7 linked regions of the Homo sapiens genome follow. The protein of the gene in region 5 purifies or fractionates together with the protein of the main gene of each other region. This does not show direct contact. Each region holds a gene or a part of one and is shown on either strand. Other genes may lie near its edges.

Region 1 (4,014 bases), about 47 Mb from region 5:
GGATCTCTTGAATCCAGGAGTTTTAGACCAGCCTGGGCACTGTGACAACATCCTGATAAATAAATAAATTAGCCAGGTGTAGTGATGCACACCTGTAGTCCCAGCTACTCAGGAGGTTGAGGCAGGAGGATCATTTGAGCCCATGAGTTTGAGGTTACAGTGAGCTATGATTGTGCCACTGCACTCCAGCCTGAGCAACAGAGCTCAAAAAAAAAAAAAAAAAAAAAAAAAAAAAAAAAAGAGCATGGAAAGGCTGACTTGGGGTCTGCCTGGAATTCCCCCATTTTTCATTCCCAGCACAAACTAAGCTCCCATGTATCTGTCAAAAACTTAATAGTGTAACAAAAGTCTAGGGTTCTTTATCAGGGTTCTAAATAGAACATCAGGAAAAAAAACAGTTCTTGTGCCCTTGCCAAATCTAATACTTAATCCTTCAAGTTCTTTACAGAGGGTAGAAAAAGCTGGGGAAAAAGTAAGTAAATGGTGAAAGTCAGGGAACTTTCTATTTAGTACTAAATCAGGCTGGTTTCATCACACCATGTTCACTTGACAGATTAAGTGCTTCTTTCAACAAACAATACCACAATGTGTATGCCAACACAAAGACACCTCTATTAAGTCAACAATTTACCTTGACTGAGAAAGTCATATCAATGCTGACTATTGCACTTAGATGAGCCAGATGATAAATAGATGGCCCAACACAACCCATTCCCAATATTATAAAGACACAAGTGCTGGGCGAGATAAGTTAATGCCTGTAATCCCAGCTCTTTGAGAAGCTGAGGCAGAAGGATCACTTGAGCCCAGGAGTTCAGGTTATAGTGAGCTGTGATTACACCACTGCACTCCAATCTGGGCAACTGAGTGAGATCCTGTCTCTAAAAAAAAATTTTTTTTAAAAAGGGGTGCCAGTGTTAAGGAAAGTATGTAAAAGAGAGGGATGAGAAAAAAGAAAGTGAGAACTGGAAAAATGTGGGGAGATGGGAAGGGCCCGGCTAGAAATACAGAGTCAACTTTTTTTTGTTTAAAAAGTCTCAATCAACTACTAAAAAATATTACTGAATGAGGTACAAAACATTATTTTATACACGTTATTTTGAAATCATACTTACCAGCAGTTGTTTTCAGGAAGTGATGTGGATGACTATACTTGAATGAAGGATAACCAAAGAAACACACATAATTTGGCTTCAAAACATGAACATTACCACATGTTTGAAAATAGCGAACACAAATCTACAGATGAGAAAACAAAAAGTAAAAGCATTTATAAACAACCATACCGGCTTATCTCTAAGTATAAATTGAATTTCAATTCCATTCTAAAAGTAGAACCATTGTCACAATAGAAATATTATATCCTTAGATTTAGATTTGTTACATTTATGATCCTTACCCAAAATTCCTTCTGAAAGTAAAGACATTTTAACAGTGTATTCTGTATAAATACATCAGCTTATAGGTATGCTTAAGTCATTGGACTTCCTGAACTAAAACTACTAAAGAATTCTAAAGTAATAGTTAGCATCTAAAAACAATGAAAAACTTGTATAGTATGATACCCCAAAGTTTACTTATAGTAACTTATAGATGACTCTTTAGAATTAACTATTTTACATAGTACCTTAGTATAATATTATTTTAAAATCTCTTATAGAAATAAGTAGGCCCAAATGTATTCAACTCTATATATCAAAACCTAAGTGTCTGAAAGGTATTGTGTGTGTGTGTGTGTGTGTGTGTGTGTGTGTGTGTGTGTGTATTTGAGACATGGTCTCACTCTGTTGCCCAGGCTGGAGTGCAGTGGTGCGATCACAGTTCACTGAAGCCTTGACCTTCTAGGCTCAAGGGGTCCTCCTGCCTCAGCCTTCCAAGTATCTGGGACCACAGGCGCATGCTACCCCACCCAATTAATTTTGTTTATTATTTGTAGAGACAAGGTCTCAGTATGTTGCCCAGGCTGGACTTGAAGTCCTGAGCTCAAGCAATCCTCCCACCTCAGCCTCCCAAAGTGCTAGAATTACAGGTGCGAGCCACCATGCCAGGCCATAATATCTTATTTGGAAAGTTAATATTTCAATGCCATTAGGCCAGGCGCGGTGGCTCACGCCTGTAATCCCAGCACTTTGGGAGGCCAAGGTGGGCAGATCACGAGGTAGGGAGTTAAAGAGACCAGCCTGGCCGATATGGTGAAACCCTGTCTCTACTAACAATACAAAAGAATTAGCTGGGCTTGGTGGCATGCGCCTGTAGTCCCAGCTACTTGGGAGGCTGAGGCAGGAGAATCGCTTGAATGCGGGAGGCAGAGGTTGCAGTGAGCCGGGATCGAGCCACTGCACTCCAGCCTGGTGACAGAGCAAGACTCCATCTCAAAAAAAAAAAAATTTCAATGCTATTAATACTTAACTACATCATACTGTAAACATAAACTACAGAATTTATTTACTTATTTAATTTTAAAGCCCTGAGCTTACTTCTCTGCAGAAATTTCTAACCTTCTTAGTATAAGAATACTGATAAGTGAAACTTTTTCATGTATGTAACAGAGTCACTTTTACTTAAAAAAAAAAATCATGTACATTAGTGGTGATTAGCTCTTAACTTTTAAAGGCTATGTTATAATAAACATCATATAGTACAGTCATGTTTTAATACATATTTATAAACTAGAATTTTTGTTTTTTTCTGATAGCAAATATAAAAGTAAAAGTTTGGTTTACTGACAAGAACAATACATTTAAATTCTTATTTTTTTACTTTAAATTTCAAACTATTACTGATTTCTGAAGGCAAAGAAAAACTGAAGATCCCTTTCCTAAAACATAAATAATCTTAAATCATTCATCTTAACTTTAGAGATCACCCTAAATCGACTAGTCTTTATAATATCAACATTTTATTTTTACTAACATTAATATTCAGGAAATATAAAGCCTAACTAAAATAATTAAAATTGATAACTTAAAACCAGAAGACAATAAAAGAATTCTCTTTCCCAAACATTTCCATTTTGTTTGTCCTTGCTTTCTCCTTCAGCTCCCATAATCCTGACTCTTGGTCAACAATAAAATCAAAGGAGTGAATCAACCTCTGTTTCATCAGACATAAAACTTAGGGACAATAAAGGAAAGTTTTGAAGTATATAGATTCACCTTAATTTAAATAAAATTGTTCATATTTGTAAAACATTTGAAAGAAAATTAAACTACTAGAAGGTCTTACCTTCAACAACAACACAACTCGTATTGAACTATTCATGGGTCGGGGCAGCATAAACCACCACGCTTAACATTTATTGAGTGCCTCCCATGTGCTGAGTACTTTCTTTTCAGACAGGCCAGGCATGGTGGCTCTGGCCTGTAATCCCATCACTTTGGGAGGCTGAGGTGAGTGGATTGCTTGAGGTCAAGAGTTTGAGACCAGCCTGGTCAACATGACGAGACCCCCTCTCTACTAAAAATACAAAAATCAGCTGGACATGGTGGCACACGTAGTCCCAGCTACTTGGGAGGCTGAGGCACAAGAATCACTTGAACCTGGGAGGCGGAGGTTGCAATGAGCCAAGATCACACCACTGCACTTCAGCCTAGGTGACAGAGAGACCTTGTCTCCAAAAAAAAAAAAAAAAGAAAGAAAAAAAGAAAAATAGCCTTTTTAGACATCATCTTTTTTTCTTTTTTTTTTGAGATGGAGTTTCACTCTGTCACCCAGGCTGGAGTGCAGTGGCACGATCTCAGCTTACTGCAACCTCCGCCTCCCAGGTTCATGCGATTCTCGTGCCTCAGCCTCCCAAGTAGCTGGGACTACAGGCATGTGCCATCATGTCCAGCTAAACTTTTTTTGTGTGTATTTTAGTAGAGACGGGGTTTCATTATGTTGCCCAGGGTGCTCTCGACCTCCTCAGCTCAGGCAATCCGCCCACCTTGGCCTCTCAAAGTACTAGGATTACAGGCCATGAGCCATGGTGCCCGGCCCAGACATCATCTTTACATTTACAATTTCCCTGTGGAA
Region 2 (4,555 bases), on a different chromosome or scaffold from region 5:
ACAGGTCTCCTTGGGAATCACAACCCTAATGAATCCCGGTGCTGGGGACAGCCCCTGTGGGATCTAAGTCATCAAGGAAGATTTCCTTCAGGAAATGAAAGCTGGGTGGACGTAGATGGTGCGTAGGAGAAGAACAGGCAGAGAAAGAGCATGCCGGGAGGGAGACGGTGGGAAGAACCCTCTTGCTAGCATTTAAGGAACAGCAGAAACTGGCAGAAGCCACTGTGGCCTGGTTCCAGAGGCCTCTGGGGGTGGATGATGTGGGCTGAGGCCTGGGGGATCAGTGGGACCTCAGTTGATAGGGCCTGGAAGTGTGGATTGCAGAATCGGATCTTTACGTAAGAGCAATGGGAAGCCCCAGAGGCAGGATGAGGCATGATCAGGTTTGGGTTTGAAAAGACCAGTAAGGCAAGTGTGCAAAGAACAGAGGGGAAGGAAGCAAGAGAGGACTGAGATCAGCTGGGAGCTCCTGCAGAGACTAGAGATATTAGTGGTCCAGGCAAGAGATTGTCAGTATTGCTCCCAGCCACGGAAAATTTGGCTGTTGTAGGTCTTTCATTGTGAAATGTAAACTTATTCTTGGGAATTAAGTATTCAAACAGTGAATGTGGTAGGCAGGGGCTGAAATGGTTCGTAACCTCTACCTGACTGCCAAGTGCCAGCCTCCCTTTCATGTCATGAAAGATACAAGAGAGAACAGGCTCCCAGGCCGTTCTACCCCCCTTTCAATCACACAACCAGTGTGTGACTGATTGTGTGATTGGAAAGGGGGTAGAGATAGAAGTAACTGGACTTGGGAAATATTTAAGCAGCAACAAAATGGAAAGTTATTTTGCAATTACAAGAATAAACTTTCAGTAAAACTGCTATTAAAGTCTAGATTTATCTAAGGGTAAATTTTGTGATATAGGGCTTGTAGGCCATATGAGAAAATTTTCTACCAGTAAAATAAAGTTTGAATTTGTTTTTATTTTGTTGTAACAAAGGCAATAAAGAGGGGAAGTCTCTCAAATATTTAAAAACTTTTATTTTTACTTTCAGAGAATTTGAAGGTATACAGATGAAATCTGACAAGACGTGAATTTATAATTCTAAAAATAATTTCACAGCAGAGAGAAAGCATATACCTAGATATGTACATATTTATTACAATATAAAGACATAAATGTATATTTCTGAAATATTCTAAAAATATAATGTAGGAAGAAATATTTATCAAATACACAGAATTATATACAGTATGCATTTAGGAAAAGCAGTAGTAAAAATATGCACAAATAAACCATCTGTAAACACAATTTTTAAGTCTTATAAGTATTGCATGCATTTCTGTGCATTTTACATTTATGAAATCATATTTTTCCTAGGAGTTCAAATCACAAAACAAATGTTATATAACAGATCTCTAACTTTTGCATGCTTTACACTTGTCCCATTTAATAGACAGAAAAATTATGGCATGGGAAATCATTTTATAATATTAAAGTCACACTGAATGTTTTTAAGCTGTGACTAAACTTTGAAACATTGCCCTGCACCACAGATCCTAAATCAAGTACTGCAAATATTAAAAAAATGACTGAGGCAAATTACCATTAGAACCCACACACACATACACGGACACACACACACAGACACACACACACATGCATGTCTGTGCTTCATATGCACATACACAATTTAAAAATTATTGCTTCATCTTTACCCTAATGCCATAAAGGAATCACATTTAAAAAATAAACAATTTTAAGGTCCTCTAACAAAATAATGCCCCAGTGAATCACTAGTCTTATAAGTTGTTTGACTTCGTTAAAGTCCTTTTAAAAATAGAGGTGTTCTCTAGTTTCCCAATAATGTTTTTATTTCAATGCAGGAAGAACGCAATTTCATGGGAGGCCTGATAACTTTAACCATCATTTAGCTTGGCTTACATTATTAAGCAGGGACATTTTCCTAAGTAGTACATTAAGCAGAGCTACAGTAAATGGATTGTCAGTATTACTCCCAGCCCCAGAAAATTTAGCTGTTGTAGGTCATTCATTGTGAAATGTAAACTTATTCTTGGGAATTAAAGATTCAAACAGTGAATGTGGTAGGCAGGGCCTGAAACGGTTTGTAACCTCTACCTGACTGACAAGTGCCAGCCTCCCTTTCATGTCATGGAAGATGCAAGACAGAACAGGCTCCCAGGCCATTCTAAGCACCTGAAGATGGTGCTGACACAGGTGAAGTGTAAACCAGCAGTGAACCCTGTAGAATGCCTTGGATCCCAGCACTCAGTCCGCTTCCCTGAGTTGGATATGATGTTAGCAAATACCACCATCTAGAAAGACAGTACAGCTTCTGGAACAATTTTGCAGAAGAAAAAGTATCAACACCTGGGCCTAAATATTCTTTATAAGCTGTTGTATGGTGTGGTGTTTGAAGTTTGCTTTCCGGTAACGTAGAAGCCATAAGCACCATTCTTGCAGAAAAGTTGAAATGGCTGTTTTGGTCTTGGTAAAAAAAAAAAAAAAAAAAAAAAAAAAAAAAAAAAAAAAAAAAAGGTATACCCTAATTGTATATCAAAGAAGTGTATTTAAACAAGACAAATTATTAGCCAAAGAAAAAATGCTAAAACTTAAAAGGTGTGGCTTACTGTGATAAACATGCATGCTCTTTGCTGAAGGCTGGGGTGTCACAATGCAGCTAGAATACTTTCCTTACCCTACTTGATTCAGTTCTGTTGGTTGGGATGCTCAGAATTTGACAAATTTCATAATAGCATCAGACACTTGGTGGAGGAATAATAATGTATTCATTTGGGCCTTGTTCAGAAATTTCATCTGTAATTGCATGTTTCTCTAAATAATCTACCAATAAGCAAATGCTCCTTAACTTGCCATTGGCAAACAGCATTTTTTTCTAGGAAAATCCTAGAAGGTGCTGCTAAAAGAACACAATGATAGAATCCGGGTTTAAACACCGACATGTCAGCCTATAAAGCCATATGTTACAAATGTCTTATTTCCACCACCAGGGGTGGTGGCTCACACTTGCAATCCCAGCACTTTGGGAGGCCGAGGCGGGTGGATCACGAGGTCAGGAGTTCAAGACCAGTCTGGCCAACATAATGAAACCCCATCTCTACTAAAAATACAAAAAATTAGCTGGGTGTGGTGGTGTGCACCTGCCTGTAATCCCAGCTACTCGGGAGGCTGAGGCAGAAGAATCGCATGAACCCAGGAGGCGGAGGTTGCAGTGAGCTGAGATTGCACCATTGCACTCCAGCCCAGGTGACAGTGTGAGACACTGTCTCAAAAAAAAAAAAAAAAAAAAAAATTAGGGCCTTCTTAGGCTAACTTTTGATCACTTCAATAGTTTTGAATTCATTGTAATGTCTATTAGGAGAACATAACTAGACTTACTAACTCTTAATTTCATTAAGGAAATTATTACTCAGGACGAGGCCAACATATGCTATTTGGCTTATGTTATTTAAAGGAAATAACTCAGTAGTATTGAAATAAATAGCACCTGGTTGGTATATGGACATGGCAAAAGTTGTGGAGGGAACATGAGAACTCCTCTATTGTCAGAAAAAGTATTGAATGGCATACTGCAGAAAAAATATTCTATTGTGTTCAATACAGGCTGATAAATATATACATTTATATTACATGTGGTTGCATAACACAAACCTAGACCCTAGGGCTAAATACAGTCCACCGCTTGTTTTTTATAAAATTTATCAGAACACAGCCTTTGTAGGCAGAATAACAGATCTCCTAAAATGTGAATGCCCTAATCCCTGGAACACGTGAATATACTACCTTATATGAAAAAAAGGGCTTTCCAGATGAAATTAAATTTATGAACTTGGAGATGGGAGACATGATCCTGGATAATATCTTGTCAGACAGAAGCAATGTAAGAAGAAAGAGAGATTCAAAGTGTGAGAGGGACTCAACCAACCATTGTTACTGGCTTTCAGTTGGGGAAGGTTTCATGAGCCAAGGAATATGGGAAATCTCTCAAAGTTGAGGATCGCCTTCAGCTGACAGCAGCAAAAAAATAAAGACTTCAGTCCTGTAACCATGAAGAACTAAATTCTGCCAACAACCAAACTAGCAAGAGAATAGATCCTCCTCTAGAACCTCCAGAAAGAGCCCCGACAACACGATAATTTTAGCCTGGAAGAGCCTCATCAGACTTCTGACCTATAGAACTGTAAGATAATAGATGTGTGTCGTGTAACTCACTAAGTTTTAGTAATTTGCGGTGGCAGCAATAGAAAGCTAGGACATCAGCTCACTCATTAGTTTACAAATTGCCTGTGGCTGCTTTCATGTTCCAAGGTAGTATTAAGAGGATGTGACAAAGACTGTATGGTCCATAAAACCTAAAATATTTGCCAACTGGCCCTTTACGGAAAAAGTTTGCCAACCCTTACTATTCACATGCAAAAACCATGAACAGCTGCTAGCATTTACTGAACACTTAATTGATGCCAGGCTCAGGAATAACTACTTGGTATTCATATTAAATTTTTGTGATACACTCTCTTTGGGTCATC
Region 3 (4,014 bases), on a different chromosome or scaffold from region 5:
GGCGGGTGTACATGTCAGCCATCTTCCCCTGCATCAACTGGGCACAAAGGGATGTCACAGGTCAACATGCTGGAACACTCTCTCAGTTACCAAAAGCAGGTCAGCAATGGCAACAAGACAGCCAAGGATGAGGAAGCAGGGGCATGGAGAGGAGATGGGATTTACTCAGGATGATGGAGATGGGGGCAGGTGTGGGAGTTAGGGCCACAGAGTGGCTGTTCCACAGCCCGCATGACACCCCGAAGTGGCCATCACTGCCTCCGAAAGGCATGGCTCCCAAGGCACCATTTACTCCAATGCTTATTACCTTCCAGCAGCTTCTTCGGACCAGAAGGTCTAACTACAAATAGCAACCTCTTTCCCTTCTGCCCCCACAACTTGCACGCTTTGCTCTCCAACCTTACAATGTCTAGTTCATCCACCTCACACAGGAATCGAGGTGGCAATGTGGTGAACTTCCTGATGACTTCCAGAGTCAGGCTGCATGCTGAGGAAGACTGCATTCCAAGCAGTCAAGCTCAATTTGCTAGAGGAGACAGTAACCATCCACGGTGCCCACCTCACTTCCTCTCTTTTCAAAGAAAACTTTAGCCCAGTTGAAGAGTACATGTCAGCAAAAGCACTCGGCTCACCTGGAAGTGGCCGATCTTCTGGCCAAAGGCTTCCCTCACGTGCAGGTAGGGAATGGTGTGGTCCAGGACCGCTTGCATGAGCCTGTCAGAAAGGAGAAAGGCCCCGTGGGCACCTCCTCATCCCACCACCGGGTGTGGTGGCAAAATGCTAGCGTGGGAAGGCCAGAATCCCAGGGAGGAGAAAAGCAACTTCAGAAAGTCTTGCCACAGTTACGGCACTGACTGGCCAGAGGTGCAGGGGCGTGACAGCCCAGGTGTCGTTTCACAGCCGAGTAAGCCACCCTGCTCCTCAGGCCTTTTGTCTGTTACTTAATGATATTTCCCCACTGTGGGAAGAAATTCAACATGGGAAGAGGAGGTTCCTTTCATCTCCCAGGAGAGAGCAGGGCCAAGAGGCAGCTCCCTTTGGCCCCGCAAGGGGAAGGCTGCTGCTGCTCATGGTGGGTCACCTGCCGAGGAGGCCGACAGAGCCCAGCTTCCCTCAAGCCTCTCACACTTACCCAAGAGGCCCCCCGGCCAGCACCAGCCGCTCCAGGTCCAGCCCACTCATCAGCACGTAGACACCCTTATTCTCATGGCCCAGGATGTTGGCAGCTGCCAGGATAAGTGCTGGTCAGAGGGAGAGAGCTGTCCACAGCCTCCTCACTTTTATCAAAGGTACTAGATTTGGAAACATGGCTCTCAAGTAAGGCACTAAAATATGTCACTTGACCTTTATTCAACTAAGGTTCCAGGTGAAAGAAAAGGATCAAGTGAACCCCTTCCAGTCAGAAGTGGAGCTGCCAGGACTCCCACCCCATCCACGAGGCCAACCACAAAGGCTAGAGTTGTTAGATCTTTCCCTTCCCTCTCTGGACTCCCTTGGATGGGAAAGAAGAAAAGTTAATTGGTCTAGAAGTCACCCAATCCCTCCCTGACTCTTTCTACACAGGCACCTATAAAGAAACCAGAGAATTACTCTTTCCCCCAGGTGGAGTCAGCTCTGGTCCAATGTCACCTCCCTGCAGAGTAGTCCGTGAAAGCTTCTTTGTCCAGGAGACAGGCCATTCAGAGCTAGTGACAGAAGCTGCTGAGCACCTCTCCACCCAGTAAAGCCAGGAGACTGGATGGCCTTGGGAGGTGTGGGCAGGAAAACAGGTTGACACTACTGACCTGCCTTTAATGCTAGCTGAATTTTTTCCTGTCAACAAAGAAGGAGCTGCACAGCTCCCCCTCCCTGGATGCTCCCTGTAATTAAAGTACACTTTTTTGGGCTGTCAGTGATAGGCGTGGTATATGGCTGAGGCAGACAGCAAACCTAACTGTTGATCAAATCCATGCCCCTGGCCAGGCAAGGTGGCTCAGGCCTATAATCCTGGCACTTTGGGAGGCTGAGACAGGTGGATCACCTGAGGTCAGGAGTTCGAGAGCAGCCTGGCCAACATGGTGAAACCCCATCTGTCTCTACTAAAAATACAAAATTAGCTGGGCGGTGTGTGCCTGTCATCCCAGCTACTCAGAAGGCTGAGACAGGAGAATCACTTGAACCCAGGGGGCGGAGGTTGCAGTAAGCCAAGATCGCGCCATTGCACTCCAGCCCTGGGCAACAAGAGCGACACTCCATCTCAAAAAAACAAACAAAAAATTTAGCTGGGCAGGGTGGCGCATGCCTGTAATCCCAGCTACTCGGGAGGCTGAGGCAGGAGAATCACTGGAACCCAGGAGGTGGAGGCTGCCGTGAGCTGAGATCACGCCACTGCACTCTAGCCTGGGTGACAGAGCCAAGACTCCTTCTCAAAACAAACAAACAAACAAACAAACAAAAAAAACAAAAAAAAACCCCAAACAACAAATCCATGCCCCTGGTCTGGTTAGTACATGATGGCTGTGCTGGCTCTCCCACAGTGCTCCACCATGTCAGATTTCAGTTACACCTCAGGGGAGAAAATACTCATACTCAAGCAGAACTGCCTTCTCTCTACTGAGTCGGGATTCCATCAGTGGATTCAGATGTTTTGTTTTTTTTTCTTAGCATCATTAATGCTAAAAATGAATAACTCATTTTTAAAATATTTTACAAAAACGTGAGTTAATGAGTTACTCACATGCAGTGGATGGGCGAAAGTACAGGAAGACTGAAGGACATCAATGGGAAAGGGTAGGTCTGACCCTTCTCCTCCGGCTACTGAGTACAGACCCTATGCGGAGTGTGTGATGCCAGTTAGGCATGCCGCTGCAGGGCCCTGGCCAGGAAGGAGCGCTGTCCAGCAGCCCCAGCTCACAGCCTAGCCACATGTCACTGAAGCGCTAACAATGCCAAGCCTCTCTAACCCAGAGGCTTTCTCAACTTGAGAACAGCCAGATCAGCCTGGAAGGGGGTCAGGAGAGGGGCTCCCCGATTCCCGGTGCTACTTACCAGGAATCTTGCAGTCTTCAAAGATTAGCTCACAGGTGTTAGAGCCCCTCATCCCCAGCTTGTCCAGCTTCTTAGAGGTGCTAAAGCCAGGCATACCCTTTACAGGAAACAAAAGGTGGTCCTGGTTACAGATTAGCCCCAAGGGGGCCTGGTAAAGGAAAGGCCTCTGGGAAGAAGGCACTCACCTTCCTATTGAGTCCCTGTACCTGCACAGCATGGCAGCATCCTAGTCCCATGCTCCCCCCGGGACCTTCCGGTGCTAACGCCCCAGATTGATCCCAGCCTCCTCTGCCACTAGCTTGTGTTCTCCCCAGTTCTCATGGGGACACTTCTTTCTCAATGATATGCTCAGTTCCCTGAGCCCTCCCGACCCCCCTGGCCTTATTTCCCTCCCCCAGGGGACATTACTTCCAAGACACTGTCACCAGCCCGGTCAATTCCCTTATCCTCTGTTGTTCTCCTGTCTGTACCCAAAGGGATCCCACTAGGGCTGAACTGAGCCCTCTGTACTTTGACCTGGACTACTGGGTTGCAGCATGTTTTGGCAAGTGACCAGCAAAGTGCTGGCACATGCTGCCTTCAGCCTGTAATGAGGGTGGCATCACGCAACCTTGAGATTTCCAATCTCAGCCAGGTCCCTACTGCTCCAACCCTAGACAGCTACTTTCCCCCTCTCTATGGAGGGTACCGCAAACCTTTACAATACTCGCTCATGAAACTCTTGCCAACTCCCCCACTCGTGGCCCCAGCCTTCACAGGGCCCCTGGCTTCCTCCTCATGATCGTTAGGCAAGTGGTTCCTGCACCATCACCTGTAACCCATCCTTCTCTCTTCTGCCCCAGCTCACCATTGTGTTCTGCCCACTCATTCCCACACTTTTCAATTTCTCCCTCTATTTTCTTTTTTCTTCCCTTTTTTTTCCTTCTGACCAAAAAATCTGCTCAGTTCTCTCATTTCTAAAAACAAACCCAAACTCCTAACTTTTCA
Region 4 (4,014 bases), on a different chromosome or scaffold from region 5:
AACAGCTGCATGTAGGAACTTACCTGGGCTCGGAGTCACACTGTAACATTTTTAAAAACATGCATGATCAAGAATATTTAACACCACTTAGATATTTAACTTAAAGAAAGTATAATTTTTAAGGTGTGATAATTATATTGTTGTCATGTTAATATATTTTGTTATTTTGTTTTTTTTTTACTTCCCTGTAAGATCTGAATGTTAGTATCTTTTGAAGGTACAGTTAATCCTTGAACAACTCAGGGGTTGGGGGAACCACCCCCAACACAATTGAAAATCTGCATATTATTTTTGACTCCCCCACAATTTACTCATAGCCTGATGCTGACCAGAATGTTTGCCAATAACATAAATGGTCGATTAACATATATTTTGCATGTTACAAGTATTATATATTGGATTCTTATAATAAAGTAAGCTAGAGGAAGAAAATGCAATGAAGGAAATCACAAGGAAGAGAAAATGAACTGACTTTTCATTAAGTGGAAGTGGATCGTCATAAAGGTCTTCATCCTCATCATCTTCACGTAGAGCAGGCTGAGGAGGAGGAAGGGAGGGTTGGTCCTGCTGTCTCAGGGGTGGCAGAGGCGAAAGAGAAGCCACTTAAGTGGACTCACAGTTCACACCTATGTTGTTCAAGGGTCAACTTACATACAGATAAATTTAGACTCAGTAACATGATGTCAAAGATTCACATCAACATTACCAGGGGCTGGGGGGCCGGGGGAGAGGCAGAGCAGAGCTGAGCCAGACTGGCCACTCCGACAACGATTAGCAGAGCTGAGCCGGACTGGCCACTCCGACAACCATTAGAGGAGCTGAGCCAGACTGGCCCCTCCGACAACTACTTCGGTTGGTAATTGTTGAAACTGACTGCCTGGATACATGGGAAAAGGGAATCATTAGACTATTCCCTCTGTTTCACAGAATTTATGTTTTTTAAAAAGCAATTAAAACATCCTGGCTTGGCAAATAATGTATTTGATGATGCTCACGATGGCAAATTTGGGAACTTGGAAAGGGGACATGCCTTGATTTCCTCTGACTCTGTAATGAGCCAGCCCCTTTCAGCTGCCCCTGGGAACAGTCAACGATTAAGTGCCAGGAAGACAAGGCACGAAGAACCGGGAAGCTATGGGAAGTAGAGCGCCGGCATCTGTGCATGTAGAGGGAAGGAACTCAACTCTACACCCCCAGCAGGCCTCTAAGCCCAGGGATGTGGGTCTACCTGCATGTCCCCTCCTGGAGGGCCAGCCCCGCCAAGCATGACACAACCCTCTGCCTCGGATGTTGCTCCTGGGGTTCCCCTGCTTAATGGCACAGCCTGAAACTTTGTGCTCCTTCTACAGCGTCCCCGCCCCAGAGTGGAAGCAGCAACAGGGCTCATCACAAAGTCACTCATTTCTGGAGACTAGAGGCCCATTCAATGCCACACAGTCACAGAGAACACACACGCAGTGGGAGGCAGGGCACCACTCTCCCTCACAGATATGTTTCGGAAAGGTTTATTTTTCAAGAGGTTCTGTCAGTTACAGATGACCATTGTGTAAAGCTTTTCCTTGAAGATCTATTTCCAGAAACACAGTAGGAAGTTAGTGGAAAATGAAGCCACATTAAAGCAGAGGCCTGAGCCGTGTGGCGCCGCCCAGGTTGTTCCACACGCTCCAGCAACACAAGCCTCTGCTGCCGGCCCGGCGGCTCGCCTTGTCGCAGCGCCTTACAGAGGGCTCTGGAGTGAGCGATGTTCTGCTCACCCCTGCTGCAGGCGATGCAACTAACCATACAAATTAAGCCTTATGGTGTAAATAATATGGTGTCTGCCTAAGTGACAACGTGTCACAAAGGCCGCACTAACAAACTGCCAGGCCCCGATCACGGCAGTCAAAGAGACCGGCCACCTCCCTGCAGGGAGGGCTGCTGACGCCTCGACACTGGCGACTGACGCGGGATGCCCTCCCGTCATTTAGTGTGCGCAGCTCAAGGGTGACCCTGACCGCCCATCACCAGCAAACGTCTGGCTCCAGGAGCTCAGTGCAACCGCAGGAATACAAAGAACCAGCAGTGAACACACCCAGCCACGACACAGAGCCCGGCTCCGGGTTCACACGGCCAAGCTCCGGCAGTGAACACACCCAGCCACAACACAAAGCCCCGCTCTGGGTTCAGACTCAAGGCTCCATTCTCACCTGCTTTCACCTGGGGAAAGGTGAGAAAAACTGAAGAGCGCTGCTGCACTTCACGAGGGAATCAAGGGAGAACCGTCACAGCAGCCCGCACGCCATCTCTTGTTAAGCACACGGCACATCATACACAGTGAAGTGTCCAACCTCTGTAAAATGAGTCCCTCGCCCGTCACTAATGTAAAAAATAGGAAACACTCTTTCCATTGACCTCTTGATGATCAAATGATTGGGCATAAAGATATGTAGGTTTAAATCTTTAGGAGTCAAAGTCCTATTGTGTCAAACTGAGATTACATCTATTAAAGATAAAACATAAAATATGTGATTCTGTGACACAGCATCAAAACCAACGCAGAAGGGAAAAGTCCACCAGCTGGATCATCGACACTGTAGAATACCGACCCCATTCATGGACATTTAAAATAAAAGTTTAAAATAAAGTAAAAGCTCAGTTCAATTATTTAGAACATCAGGCATTCTGAACATGAATGCCAATAATTATTTAAGCTAAACGTGTGTATACATGTCTATATAAGTATATAATTCTTAAATCACAGGCAAAACTGAAGTTTTCATTCAAATTAATTTTTAAACTAAGTAACTTTATAGAAAATGCTCTAAAAACCACAATTGAGCTGTCTGTACAACATGTTCAAACTTGCTTTGAGAATGTTGGAATCCAGTGACTAATTTTGCCAGTGCCTTGGAAGAGAAAGAACCACAAGACACAAAGACACAATAGAGAAGCAAAGACGAAGCTGGGGAGCTGCATGAGGGAGGAAATAAAGCCCATCTCGCCAGCTCACAAACAAAGCCACCAGCATGTGAACCTGGGGCTCGTGAATTCACAGTTCCAACTATTTTCCTCTGGGTCCTGGGATAAATAAACCTCACTTTATAACCATTATTTCTGACAGTCCAAGCCTTTCTAAAGGAAGCAAAGACCCACGGTTCTTATCCATCCAGAAGATTTCTTTTAAAATCCGATTGCCTTCACTCCACTATAAAGATGGCGTATTTGGGAGGGAAGCTCAGGAGGAGGAGCATGCAGAAGCGGGAAGCCACACAAAAGCTCTGGAGAGCAGCCATGGCGCACATCGCACCGCCCGCGTCTCAAACACCCCCTAAAGGACGCCCAGGTTGCTTCAAGACAAGAGAGACTCAGGCAAACCTCCCCTCTTAAACCCTCTAAGGATGAACCTGGAAGCAAGCACAGAGCTCCACCTCTGCCACCAACCAGATGACCTGCAAAGGCGGAGGGTGGAATTCCGAGGCCCCTCAATTCAATCTTCCTCTCACGGAGGACCTTCTCAGCCACCACTGTCTGGCTGGGGGCCTCACCCTAGCACCCATCCCCGACTCCCAGTCCTGTCTCCCACCTGGAGCTCCAGCGGCACCACAAGGGCACTTTCACAGCTCCCTCCTGGTGACGCCACCTCTTCCTCCTGCCCCCCAAGTCCTAGGAATAGTGGCTGCTTCCTGCAGCTACTGACCCCTGGGTACCTCAGCACTCCCTCTCAGCTCTCTGGTGGCATCCCTCCTGTGACCAACAGTGTGTGTGTGCACGCACGAGAGCCAACATGGTTCGGGTGGTGCTGCGCTGGCCTCAAGAGATGGCTCAATGTAGACGAAAGATGTCACAAGTTTCTTCCACTGCTGATCCGAGGAGTGCGCTTGTCCTGGGTGATAACACAAGTTACCACCACGGGTGTGCAGAGCCTCTGGAGGTGCCGCGTGGGCCCAGCCTCAGCCTCACTTGCTTCCCCACCCGAGTGTGCCCTGCCCTGCCGGCCTCTTGGGAGAAATAAGAATGAGCGACACCAGCCACAGA
Region 5 (4,014 bases):
CTGTTTGTGTTGAGAAGAACCTTCTAAAATTGGTCATGTACCATACAAAGTCCCTCTAGCCTGGCCCAGCCTATGTTAACAAGCAGGCATGGGCTGGTTGCTACATACCTGGGCATAGCACATCCCTTCAATGGCCATCCCAGATGCAATGTCCACCTGCAAGAAAGACGTGCTCCCTGGATTGGTCTGACCTTGTCCATCTTCACCCACACTGGAAGCCAGCCCACCCTATTGCCTACAGACATCTATATGAGCAGAGATAGCTATGAGAAGGAATTTCCCTCCTAGAGAAGAAACACCATTCGTAACTATGACAAAACTGCTGGGAGAAACGAGACAGACTGAGACATTTTGCCAGAGAAGAGGAGTTCTCCTTCCCATCCGGCTGCCTCACCACGCTTCCTGTCACCCGTTAATTTCTGAACCTTTATGACCTGGGCCCTGGCAATTGCTCCAGCCTCTAGGGCCCACTGACTGGCACTTGAAAGCCTCATTCTAAGAGAAGTACCATGTGTGTGTGAACTTAATTTTCACAGCAAGGGTTAGTATCCCTATTCTACAGCTGAGAAACCTGAGGCATAGAAAGGTGAAATAATTTGTCAAAGTTCACAACAGTATGTGGAAGAGCAGGTCTTTGAACCCAGACAGCCTAGTGCCTCGAACTTGCACTCTCTCTTCTTCCCTCACTCTCATCTGGACGAGCTGCTTGCTTATCCTCCTCTGTGCCTTTGCCCATACTTTTCCTCTGGAATTTTTATCCTTCCCACAGTCCAACTGTAGAAAACAGTCTTTAACCGAGCACTGCCCAGTATGGTAGCCACTAGCCGCATGTGAATGTCAAGCACGTGAACTGTGATTAGCGTGAAGGAGAAACTGAACATTTTATTTTATTTATTTATTTATTTATTTTGAGACGGAGTCTCGCTCTGTCGCCCAGGCTGGAGTGCAGTGGTGCGATCTCGGCTCACTGCAAACTCCGCCTCCTGGGTTCAAGCGATTCGCCTGCCTCAGCCTCCTGAGTAGCTGGGACTACAGGTGCCTGCCACCACGCCTGGCTAATTTTTTGTATTTTTAGTAGAGACGGGGTTTCACTGTGTTAGCCAGGATGGTCTCGATCTCCTGACCTCGTGATCGCCCGCCTCAGCCTCCCAAAGTGCTGGGACTACAGGCATGAGCCACCGCGCCTGACCACATTTTACTTTTAATTTAAAAGCCACACATGGATATCATAATGGACCGCAAAGCTCTAACCTTTCTGGGGTGTCAGCGTGGTACCATTATCCTTGATTTGTGTCTGTATCTGCCCCCTCCCGGGGGCAGTGACCATGTTTAACTCATCCATCTGTATCCCAGTTCCCAGCTTTGTTCTGGATTCAGTGTGTGATGAGTGACTAGATGGGAGAGTTGAGGTGGACAGATGGATTAACTAGATGGGAGAGTTGAGGTGGACAGATGGATTAGCCACACCCAAGGCATCACCCCAAGCCCTGCCCTGAGGCCACATTACTGCCAGCACAAATCTTGCAGCATGGACTGGCAGCCACACAGACCCGGGTTCTTTCTACTCACTTCCTCTGAGACCTTGGGCAAATCATTTACCCTTTCTTAACCTCAATCTCATCCTCTCTCCAAGGGAGAAAGATGAGGATAGAATGTAAACAATAATACTGTCTGGCCAATTTGCAGATGTGTAAACTGACGTAGAGCACGAGGTCAGAGTTCAAGTCTGTTAGAAGAGTCCACTTCCTGAGTTTTTCCCAGCTGTGCTGTCTGAGCTCTGAAAGCACTGTGTCCCAGCCGCGACCAACTTTAGTGGACCCAAGTCCCAACCCAAAACCCTCTCACCTCCGTTCCTCGGTCAATGGCTACTTTGCCCAGCCGCACGGCAATGGGGGCCTAGGGAAAAGCAAAAAGTCTTGGTTGAGGAGGGCATCAAGGCTGATAGTTGCAGGTCTGAGGTGCACAGCTTTGTTTTAAAGGAGGGAGGCAGATGTCTGGGTCTGGTTCCAGCCATTCTGCTGACAGTTTCTTTAGCGTTAGTCCTATAACCTGTTAGCTGAGGTTCTTTTTCTATCATGAAAGAAGCCAGACTCTGATCCCTGAACACCTGGGTTTCTTGTTATTCAGCCCATCCTTCCAACATGCACAACATAACTAGTTTACAAAGTGCTTTCCTCCCCCACAGACTCATCTAATGGTGCTACCCACACTTCTAGGCTGGTGTCATCACTGATGACCCAGCTGTGATTTTACAGCTGTGAGATTGCAGTGCAGGGAGGTGAAGCACTTGGCTGTGTTTATCCAATCATTGGTGAGACTTGGATTGGACTCCCAACCACCTTTCCCACTTCCTCGACCTCATTTCAGCAAATGCCAGCCTCTGCGGTAAGGTTTTACCCCAGCAGAGTGAAACAAAGTCAGGGTTAGGAACTTGGGCTTTCAAGTCGACAGGGCTGTGTTGAAATCCTGGTCTGTGGGGCAGTGCAGAGGGGCGGGTGCATTTTAATACAGCCACATAGAAGCAACAGTGTCTGCTTTGTCACTGGCCTTGGTTCCACACCAGCCCTAGCACTCCAGTCTCAGCCCCACTTCCAGGCAAGGAGGAATTACTTCCTATATCATATTATTTGAAGTGTTTATAAAACTTTCTCAGGAAAAGTCTCAAAAAAAAAAAAAACTGGGAAAAAGAATTGCAATGCTTATGACAGATGAATTTCCTTGATTTACAAAAAAGTTAGTATAAAGTAACTTTTAAACCATTTACAAAAGAGTATGTAAAAGGTCCACCGGAAAAGAAGTACGAACGTGAAGGATGTCCAGCAGCTGCTACACGCTTGAAAGGCAAATCAAAACAGTGAGGTACTGTGCCCTTTCACCTCAGACCAGCAAATACTAAAATATCAATATGCCTACTACTGCCGAGACTGGGGAAACCAGTATTTACATACATTATTGATAGAAAAGTAAAAGAGTATGCCACAGGAGAGCAATTTGGCAAAAACTGGCAAAATGCTGGTGTGCCTTTATAAAACAAAACCAAACCTTTGTTTTGTTTTATAAACGAAGGTTTATAAATGTTTTGTTATATAAAATGAAGGTTTTGTTTTATATTCTTCCATGTTTGAATTCCTTACTATGCATATTTAAATTTTGTTTTTAAAATTTGTTAGAAACAGATTAGCCTCGAAAGATATTTCTTGTCCTCTAAGCCATTAAAAGGAATTTATTTAAATATGTAAGCATATGTGCATAATACACGTCCTTCCATATGCAATGGAAATTTCTGGAAGAGTATGGAAACAATAGTGATGATCTGGGGAGAGAGAGGGATTGGGAAATGAAGGGCTGTTTGGGTTTGCTTGTGACTGAAGGGTTACTGGGATATGGGACTTCCACTTTTAAAACTGGGGTAGTCACAGGTAAACCAGGACTAGCTGGTCATCTTGCCTTTGATTTTTACCTTATGCCCTTCTTACTCCTCTGTTCTTTTAGATTTGCTTGCCATATGTGTTATTATTTAGGTAACTACCCAATAAAGGAAGTAATCTTGGCCAGGTGCAGTGGCTCACGCCTGTAATCACAGGGCTTTGAGAGGCTGAGGCAGGAGGATTGCTTGCCCAAAGAGTTTGAGACCAGCCTGGGCATCATCATGAGATCCCATCTCTACAAAAAATAAAAAATTAGCTGGGCGTGGTGACTTGCACCTGTAGTCTCAGCTACTCAGTAGTCTTAGGTGGAAGGATCACTTGGGCCTGAGAGGTCAATGCTCCAGTGAGCTGTGATCATGCCACTGCACTCCAGCCTGGGCAAAAGAGCCAGACCCTGTCTCAAAAATAAATAAATAAATAAATAAATAAATAAATAAAGTAACCTTTTATTAAAGTTAAAAACGGTATGTACGTATGTTTGTGAGTGAAAACAGCCAAATTCTAGCCAAGTCAGTAGCTTGCACCTGTAGTCCCAGCTATTCAGAGGCTGAGGTGGAAGGACTGCTCAGGCCCAGGGCTTCAAGGC
Region 6 (4,014 bases), on a different chromosome or scaffold from region 5:
CACCCTCGTAGCTGCCCAGTGAGTGCTGCCTGCTCCCTGCACTCTGCAGCTCAGGAAGGTGGGGCTGAGGTTCTGCTCCCTGCACTCTGCAGCTCAGGAAGGCGGGGCTGAGGTTCTCTGTTGAGCAGCGCCTCGCACTGCAGATGCTTGGTCAATATCTGACCAAGGAAGAATCCACAACTGAGGTTTCTCCAACCTCCCGCTCCTCCTCAACTGAGAGACGATGGCTCGTGTTTTAGAGCTCATTAGAATAGCTGATGCGAGAACTGGCCTTTTCTCCCTTTGCCCACTTGGTCTTGTGTCTGCCCTCTTCTGGACCCCCTCCCACACACACCAAGGGGTTTGTTTGCCTTCTCTACCCGGCTGGCTGACTATCTGTACCTCCCATTATCTGTCCCGAAAATCTCACCTAGTCAGGCCCGCCATGGAGAAATGGTAGCCAGGAACAGGTAAGTGTTAAGAATAGTAATAATGAGGAGACTCGCTTGAACCCGGGAGGCAGAGGTTGCAGTGAGCCGAGATCACACCATTGCACTCCAGTCTGGGCAACAAGCGCGAAACTCCGTCTCGGAAAAAAAAAAAAAAGAAGAGTGATAATAGCTAACATTATTTTTACTTGTGCTAGGCACTGTCCTCAGGGTGAAACATGGAATCATCTCATTTAAGCCCCACAAGAACAGTGAGATGGGAATTATCATGATGACTACTTGACAGAACCGTAAACTGAGGCTCACAGAGGCCACGTGATTTACCTGACGTCCCAGAGACAATCAGCAGCGGTGCTGAAAATTTGCAGCTGGGTCTGTCTGGCTCCCATGCACCTATAACCCCAGGGCCCCGGGGTCAGATTTCAGGATCCAGCACCTGAGACTGTTGCTGCTCCCCCTGTCACCAGCCTGTAGGGCATGCTGGGCAGACTGTGCTCCTGCTTGCAAATATTTGCTGCCCCTCCTACCCCGCTGATGTCAGGCATGTGCACGTGACAGGCTCTGGCCGCTGAAATGTGAATAAATGGAAGGCATCATTCCCAAGAAAGGTTTGTCTTTTGGAGACAGAGTCGTACTCTGTCACCCAGACTGGAGTGCAGTGGTGCGATCATGGCTCACTGCAGCCTCAACCTCCCAGACTCAAGTGATCCTCCTGCCTCAGCTTTCTGAGTAGCTGGGACTACAGGTGTGCACCACCACGCCTGGCTAATTTTTTAACTTTTCTTTTTAGTAGAGATGAAGTCTTGCTATGTTGCTCAGGCTGGTCTCAAACTCCTGAGCTCAAGTGATTCTCCCACCTCGGCCTCCCAAAGCGCTGGGATTAGACATGTGAGCCGCTGCACCTAGTCATTTTTTTTTCAACTTTTATTTACCAACAAAGTTTAGTCTCCATAAAGACTGTCAAAAACTGCCAATGTTGACTATATTTCAAGTCATCATGGTGGGGTAGTGGGAAAAGTTTTCAATCAGCAATAATCACATCTTGGGTAAACCTCACTGGCGACAACACTGACACTGCACAATCCCCTGGCAGCGTCAGGAGCCAATGTGAGCTTCACCATGACCTCTTTTCCCTCTGCCACAATGACTGATAATTGCCCCAGGCAGCAGCTGTACTAGCAGCCTGTGTCCCAGAATGAAGGCCGCATGGAGCCAAAGAATATACCCTGTGATGGGCATGAAGTGGGAACAGCAAGTCCATCTTTGGTGTCATAAGTCAGGAGATTTTGGGGTTGTCTGTGATCACAGCATGACCTGGCCCATCCTGATCTGGTCCATCCTTGAGTCCACCTTCTAAACTTTGGCTTATGTAAAAAACAACAGTCACAAAAGGGATCACATTGGATGTACTGTGCATTATACTAACTCACCTCTTTCACTCAGTATACTAACCTCAGTGGCACACACAGGCTCACCTGAAAAGTGAGGGATGAGAGGGAGGCAGCTTCACATGGCATGGGCCAGAGGCCAGCGCAGGCACAGGCAGGGCCAGAAGGGAAAGGAGTCTGCAGCCCCACAGCCTTGTGGAGCTGACCAGCCTGTGCTTCAGGGCTGAGGAAAGTTCAATAAGGGCTGACAACCTCCGAGGCTGCTGCCCAGCATGCGTGAGAGCTTCACATTCATTACGTTTACTCATACTCGACTCAAACGCAACCTCAAGGCCAATCCTGTCCCCCTTACCCAATAGCTGAACTTAATTCATCTGTAGTTCCCACGGCTTCAAACACTTGGTCATCTTTGGGTCTCCTTTCTCCTGTGAAGGTACTAGAAAACCCTGTGGAAAAAAATGTTTAGCCACCCAAATTAAGATTCTGTTTTCCTGATATGCTGTTTTTTTTTTTTTAAACTTTCAAAGATTTTAAAGAACTTTCTCTTTTTTGAACAGTCACTCTGTCATCCAGGCTGGAGTACAGCGGCGTGATCTTGGCTCACTGCAGCCTCCCCCTCCCAGGTTCAAGTGATTCTCATGCCTCAGTCTCCCAAGTAGCTGGGATTACAAGTGTGTACCACCATGCCCGGCTAATTTTTGTATTTTTAGTAGAGACGGGTTTTCGCCCATGTTGGCCGAGCTAGTCTTGAACTCCTGGTCTCAAGTGATTCACCCGCCTCAGCCTCCCAAAGTGCTGAGATTACAGGCATGAGCCACCGTACCACCCCTTAAAGAACTTTCAACTTGAAATATAGCATATACACAGAAAAGTGCTCAAATCGTAAGTGTGCAAGTTGGTGAATTACTACTAACTGAATATACCTCCTTGATCAGCACCTAGCTTCATAAACAGAACATGAGCAACACCCTGAAAGCCCCCATGTAACCCCTTTTAGTTGCCACTCCCCAAGGGTTAGCCACTATGCTCACTTCTTTCCTGATGTGCTTTTCAACTTAAAAACCACATACTAACCATCCTGATAAAGAAATACAACACGTTCTATATTTTATATCATATATACATTACCATTATATTTCACATGAAGTCAAAGTCCTCTGTGCCTCTGCCTAGCTCACAGTCCCGCCTTTCTCCCCCAACCTCTGAGAAAGTGAAAACTGCCCCTGACAGTTTGGAGCTGGCTTTCGCTATCGGGCAGGCTTTGGGGTTGCCAGGTGCCGGCCTGGCACTCACAGGTAGACTGTGGTGTTCTGCTGAACACAAACCATTTCACAGAAAACCATCAGACAGGCCACTCTATGACTATGACGGTTCGAGACCAAGACAAGGCCACTGCGGAAGAACGTCTGAGCACAGACGACTGTGTCCAAACTCCAAAAGATGACCAAACCTCCCCCTTCCCTGGCTAATGTGAGTGACTGCTGCATCTTTATCCATTACAGCGTTAGCACCTCTTTGTCCCTTCTGTCTTCTAGAAACAAATTATTAACATACCCAATTACAGGCCAGGTGCAGTGGCTCACACTGTAATCCCAGGACTTTGGGAGGCCATGGTGGGCAGATCACTTGAGGCCAGGAGTTCGAGACTAGCCTGGCCAACATGGCAAATCCCCGTCTCTACTAAAAACAGAAAAAATTAGTTGGGCATGGTGATGCATGCCTGTAGTCCCAGCTATTCGCGAGGCTGAGGCATAAGAATTGCTTGAACCCAGGAGGTTGCAGTGAGCTGAGATCGTGCCACTGCACTCCAGCCTGGGCAACAGAACTAGACCCTGTCTCAAAAAACAAAAAAAGATACCCAGTGACAGAAACAGCCCTGCTTCCTAACAGGATTCAATCCAGAACAAAGCCCCACTTCCTTGTAACCACCCAACACAAGCCCAACCCTACAATAAGTCCTTTCCAACATCCTCTTCCTTCTTTTTAATTGTGGTAACAGATGATACATAACAGAAATTTTACCATTTTGACCCTTCTTAAGTTTACCATTCAGTGGCACTGAGTATGTCCCGTACATGCTTTTATACTTTTACTATACAAGTATATATCCAAAAAACAATACATACTAGTGGTCTGCATGCTTTTGTACTACAAAAAATGGTATACTGTCTTGGTGCGGTAGCTCATGCCTCCTGTAA
Region 7 (4,014 bases), on a different chromosome or scaffold from region 5:
TCAGCCTTCTGAGTAGCTGGGATTACAGGTGCCTGCCACCACGCCCGGCTAATTTTTGTATTTTTAGTAGAGATGGGGTTTCACCATGTTGGCCAGGATGGTCTCAAACTCCTGACCTCAGGTGATCCCCCTGCCTTGGCCTCCCAAAGTGCTGGGATTACAGGTGTAAGCCACCGCACCCGGCCACTTTCTTATAGTTCTTTAGACATATTTTCATTTAGATCTTTGAACATATTTGAAATAGTTAAAAATCTCTTTGTCTGCTGCCTGGGTTTTCTTAGAGACAGTTTCTATTGATTGCATTTTTTCCCCCTGTGTATGGGCCATACTTTATTGTTTCTTTGCATGTTTTATAACTTTTTGTTGTTGAAAACTGGACATTTTAAATAATGTGGCCACTCCGGAAATCAGATTGTTTCCCTTCCCAGGGTTTGCTGTTGTATTTTTGTTTAGTGACTTTTCTGAATTGATTCTGTAGTCTGTATTCTTTGTTGTTTGTGGCTACTGAAGTCTCTGCTTAGATAGCTTAGTGGTCAGGTAATGATTAAACAAATTTCTTTAAATTTCTGTTAAATTTCTTAAAATTCTGTTCTCACTGCCTGGAAGCAGTGAGTATCCCAGTTTTTGCTTTGGGGCTCTGTGTGCACGTTGGGATGTACCTATAACACTCTGCCAGGCATTCGATAACTCTGCCTTAACTTTCACTTCCTGCTATGCAGAACCTCAAGGTCAACCACAAGTAAGAGACATTCTTAGGTCTTTCCTGAGCATGTGCACAGCTTTGGGTATATGCACAGACCTGGGTATGTTCATGGCTTCCTAGATGCCCAGGAATATATTGGGGCTTTTCTAAGCCTCTGTGGACATCTTATTCCCCAGCTTTTCCTTTAAACCTTTTTGGTTAGCCTGTTGTTTTCTCCACCTGTTAATCACTGCCTCAGGAAGCCATGAAGTCAAACAGTTACCTCTATTTGTTTTCAACCGGTGCTCCTGGGGAAAAGGTTTTTTCACACTGGGTGAGTTCTAAGACAGCCTTGAAATAGGGCCTTCTAAGGAACTGTCAGACAGGTTGAATAATGCCAGTTCTTTTTTTTTTTTTTTTTCAGAGTCAAGCTTCTTTTTTTTTTATACTTTAAGTTCTAGGGTACATGTGCACAACGTGCAGGTTTGTTACATATGTATACATGTGCCATGATGGTGTGCTGCACCCATTAACTCATCATTTACATTAGGTATATCTCTTTTTTTTTTGAGATGGAGTCTTGCTTTGTCACCCAGGCTGGAGTGCACTGGCGCAATCTCAGCTCACTGCAAGCTCCACCTCCCGGGTTCACGCCATTCTCCTGCCTCAGCCTCCCGAGTAGCTGGGACTACAGGCGCCTGCCACCATGCCCGGCTAATTTTGTTTTTTTTTTTTTTTTGAGACGGAGTCTCGCTCTGTCACCCAGGCTGGAGTGCAGTGGTGCAATCTCGGCTCACTGCAAACTCCGCCTCCTGGGTTCACGCCATTCTCCTGCCTCAGCCTCTCCGAGTAGCTGGGACTACAGGCACCCGCCACCACGCCTGGCTAATTTTTTGTATTTTTAGTAGAGACGGCATTTCACCGTGGTCTCGATCTCCTGACCTCGTGATCCGCCCGCCTCGGCTTCCCAAAGTGCTGGGATTACAAGCGTGAGCCACTGCGCCCGGCCACGCCTGGCTAATTTTTTGTATTTTTAGTAGAGATGGGGTTTCACCATGTTAGCCAGGATGGTCTCGATCTCCTGACCTTGTGATCCGCCCTCCTCGGCCTCCCAAAGTGCTTGGATTACAGGCATGAGCCACCACGCCCGGCCTAGGTATATCTCTTAATGCTATCCCTCCCCGCTCCCCCCACCCCACGACAGGCCCTGGTGTGTGATGTTCCCCTTCCTGTGTCCAAGTGTTCTCATTGTTCAATTCCCACCTCTGAGTGAGAACATGCAGTGTTTGGTTTTCTGTCCTTGTGATAGTTTGCTGAGAATGATGGTTTCCAGCTTCATCCATGTCCCTACAAAGGATATGAACTCATCCTTTTTTATGGCTGCATAGTATTCCATGGTGTATATGTGCCACATTTTCTTAATCCAGTCTATCATTGTTGGGCATTTGGGTTGGTTCCAAGTCTTTGCTATTGTGAATAGTGCCTCAGTAAACATACGTGTGTGTGTGTCTTTATAGCAGCATGATTTATAATCCTTCGGGCATATACCCAGTAATGGGATGTCTGGGAATAATGCCAGTTCTTTGTAAGGCTTTGATGAACATCATCCCCATTCTGGAGTCAACTTGTCTCCTGAGGAGACTAGTTCCTTTAGTGGTTGTTGCTATTTAGAAACCACATCTGGGTGCTACATGTGCTTATTGCTACTGGAGTGTCATCTGCAGGCCCTACCAGGACGTGGGTAGGAAATATATATATGTCTATATATACACATAAACATGCATATATCTTTTTCTTTATATATTAAAAGCCCACACCAGTTATTCTAATCTATTCTAATACCACAGGGTTTGTTCTACTCTTTTGCCTTGCCATATTTGTTAACTCCTTTCTCTGATAGAAACCTGACCCCTCACCCTTAATGTATTTATTGATTTATTCAAATCTTTCCTGTATGTAATCAATCTTTTGAAAGCTCAGATTGAAAACTCCCAAAAAAGTGGGAGGAGGCAGTGTATAGGTAATTTTTTTTTTTTTTTTTGAGACGAAGTCTCGCTCTTGTCCCCTAGGCTGGAGTGCAATGGCGCGATCTCAGGTCACTGCAACCTCCGCCTCCCGGGTTCAAGCAATTCTCCTGCCTCAGCCTCCCAAGTAGCTGGGACTGCAGGTGCATGCCCTCATGCCCAGCTAATTTTTTTGTATTTTAGTAGAGATGGGGTTTCACTGTGTTGCCCAGGCTGGTTGCAAACTCCTGAGCTCAGGCAGTCCGCCTGCCTCGGCCTCCCAAAGTACTGGAGTAATTTTTTGTTATTGTTTGAGATGGGGTCTCACTCTGTCACCCAGGCTGGAGTACAGCAGCATGATCTCTGCCTACTGCAACCTCCGCCTCCCGGGTTCAAGCGATCCTTGTGCCTCAGCCTCCTGAGTAGCTGGGATTACCAGCATGCGCCACCATGCCCGGCTAATTTATATATATTATATATATATATATATTTTGTTTGTTTGTTTGTTTGTTTGTTTGTTTGTTTTTTGAGATGGAGTCTCGCTCTGTCGCCCAGGCTAGAGTGCAGTGGTGCGATCTCAGCTCACTGCAAGCTCCGCCTCCCAGGTTCACGCCATTCTCCTGCCTCAGCCTCCCGAGTAGCTGGGACTACAGGCGCCCACCACCACACCCGGCTAATTTTTTGTATTTTTAGTAGAGACGGGGTTTCACCATGTTAGCCAGGATGGTTTCAATCTCCTGACCTCGTGATCTGCCTGCCTCGGCCTCCCAGAGTGCTGGGATTACAGGCGTAAGCCACCGCGCCCGGCCTATATTATGTATTTTTTAGTACAGACGGGTTTCACTGTGTTGGCCAGGCTGGTCTCGAACTCCTGACCTCAAGTGATCCACCCACCTCAGCCTCACAAAGTGTTGGGATTACAGGCGTGAGCCACTATGCCCGGCCTGTATTCAGTAATTTTTGAAGGAATGGTTAAACATTCTCTTCTTCCCTCTGTGGAAATATCCTTTTGTATTATAGCATGCCACATTGTAACTGGAAGGAAAGTTTGTTACCGTAGTATCTGTTCTTTGGACTCCGGAATTGAGTTAGTATCCATGGCATTTGGAATATAGGCACCAGTGGTGACTTATAAAGTGGATTTCGGCTGGGCATGGTGGCTCATGCCTGTAATCCCAGCACTTTGGGAGGCTGAGGCTGAGGGATCACCTGAGGTTGGGAGTTCGAGACCAGCCTGACCAACATGGAGAAACCCCGTCTCTACTAAAAATACAAAATTAGCTGGGCGTGGTGGCGCATACCTGTAATCCCAGCTGCTCGGGAGGCTGA

The links.
Region 1: the proteins of ECHDC2 (region 5) and DBT purify together in Homo sapiens (affinity purification with mass spectrometry; one large-scale study listed by BioGRID and IntAct). This does not show direct contact.
Region 2: the proteins of ECHDC2 (region 5) and CYP24A1 purify together in Homo sapiens (affinity purification with mass spectrometry; one large-scale study listed by BioGRID and IntAct). This does not show direct contact.
Region 3: the proteins of ECHDC2 (region 5) and IVD purify together in Homo sapiens (affinity purification with mass spectrometry; one large-scale study listed by BioGRID and IntAct). This does not show direct contact.
Region 4: the proteins of ECHDC2 (region 5) and NDUFS6 purify together in Homo sapiens (affinity purification with mass spectrometry; 3 studies listed by BioGRID and IntAct, with this or other methods). This does not show direct contact.
Region 6: the proteins of ECHDC2 (region 5) and MMAB purify together in Homo sapiens (affinity purification with mass spectrometry; one large-scale study listed by BioGRID and IntAct). This does not show direct contact.
Region 7: the proteins of ECHDC2 (region 5) and UQCC1 purify together in Homo sapiens (affinity purification with mass spectrometry, with the first as the bait; one large-scale study listed by BioGRID). This does not show direct contact.

Annotation. Positions count from the first base shown.
Region 1 is NC_000001.11:100,239,646-100,243,659, forward strand, and holds part of DBT (lipoamide acyltransferase component of branched-chain alpha-keto acid dehydrogenase complex, mitochondrial isoform 1 precursor), read right to left. Parts: intron 1,240-4,014; coding exon 1,116-1,239; intron 1-1,115. UniProt on the Homo sapiens protein: The branched-chain alpha-keto dehydrogenase complex catalyzes the overall conversion of alpha-keto acids to acyl-CoA and CO(2).
Region 2 is NC_000020.11:54,152,439-54,156,993, forward strand, and holds the end of CYP24A1 (1,25-dihydroxyvitamin D(3) 24-hydroxylase, mitochondrial isoform 1 precursor), read right to left. Parts: exon of another isoform or gene 2,324-4,555; 3' UTR 1,008-2,323; downstream 1-1,007.
Region 3 is NC_000015.10:40,412,101-40,416,114, reverse strand, and holds part of IVD (isovaleryl-CoA dehydrogenase, mitochondrial isoform 1 precursor), read right to left. Parts: intron 3,125-4,014; coding exon 3,028-3,124; intron 1,293-3,027; coding exon of another isoform or gene 1,246-1,292; exon of another isoform or gene 1,227-1,245; coding exon 1,133-1,226; intron 715-1,132; coding exon 633-714; intron 38-632; coding exon 1-37.
Region 4 is NC_000005.10:1,807,521-1,811,534, reverse strand, and holds part of NDUFS6 (NADH dehydrogenase [ubiquinone] iron-sulfur protein 6, mitochondrial precursor), read right to left. Parts: intron 1-4,014. UniProt on the Homo sapiens protein: Accessory subunit of the mitochondrial membrane respiratory chain NADH dehydrogenase (Complex I), that is believed not to be involved in catalysis. Complex I functions in the transfer of electrons from NADH to the respiratory chain.
Region 5 is NC_000001.11:52,897,329-52,901,342, forward strand, and holds part of ECHDC2 (enoyl-CoA hydratase domain-containing protein 2, mitochondrial), read right to left. Parts: intron 1,897-4,014; coding exon 1,846-1,896; intron 1,427-1,845; coding exon of another isoform or gene 1,252-1,426; intron 157-1,251; coding exon 109-156; intron 1-108.
Region 6 is NC_000012.12:109,566,602-109,570,615, forward strand, and holds part of MMAB (corrinoid adenosyltransferase MMAB precursor), read right to left. Parts: intron 2,263-4,014; coding exon 2,169-2,262; exon of another isoform or gene 1,702-2,168; coding exon of another isoform or gene 1,654-1,701; intron 976-1,653; exon of another isoform or gene 753-975; intron 567-752; exon of another isoform or gene 427-566; coding exon of another isoform or gene 410-426; intron 1-409. UniProt on the Homo sapiens protein: Converts cob(I)alamin to adenosylcobalamin (adenosylcob(III)alamin), a coenzyme for methylmalonyl-CoA mutase, therefore participates in the final step of the vitamin B12 conversion.
Region 7 is NC_000020.11:35,401,777-35,405,790, reverse strand, and holds part of UQCC1 (ubiquinol-cytochrome c reductase complex assembly factor 1), read left to right. Parts: intron 1-4,014. UniProt on the Homo sapiens protein: Required for the assembly of the ubiquinol-cytochrome c reductase complex (mitochondrial respiratory chain complex III or cytochrome b-c1 complex). Involved in cytochrome b translation and/or stability.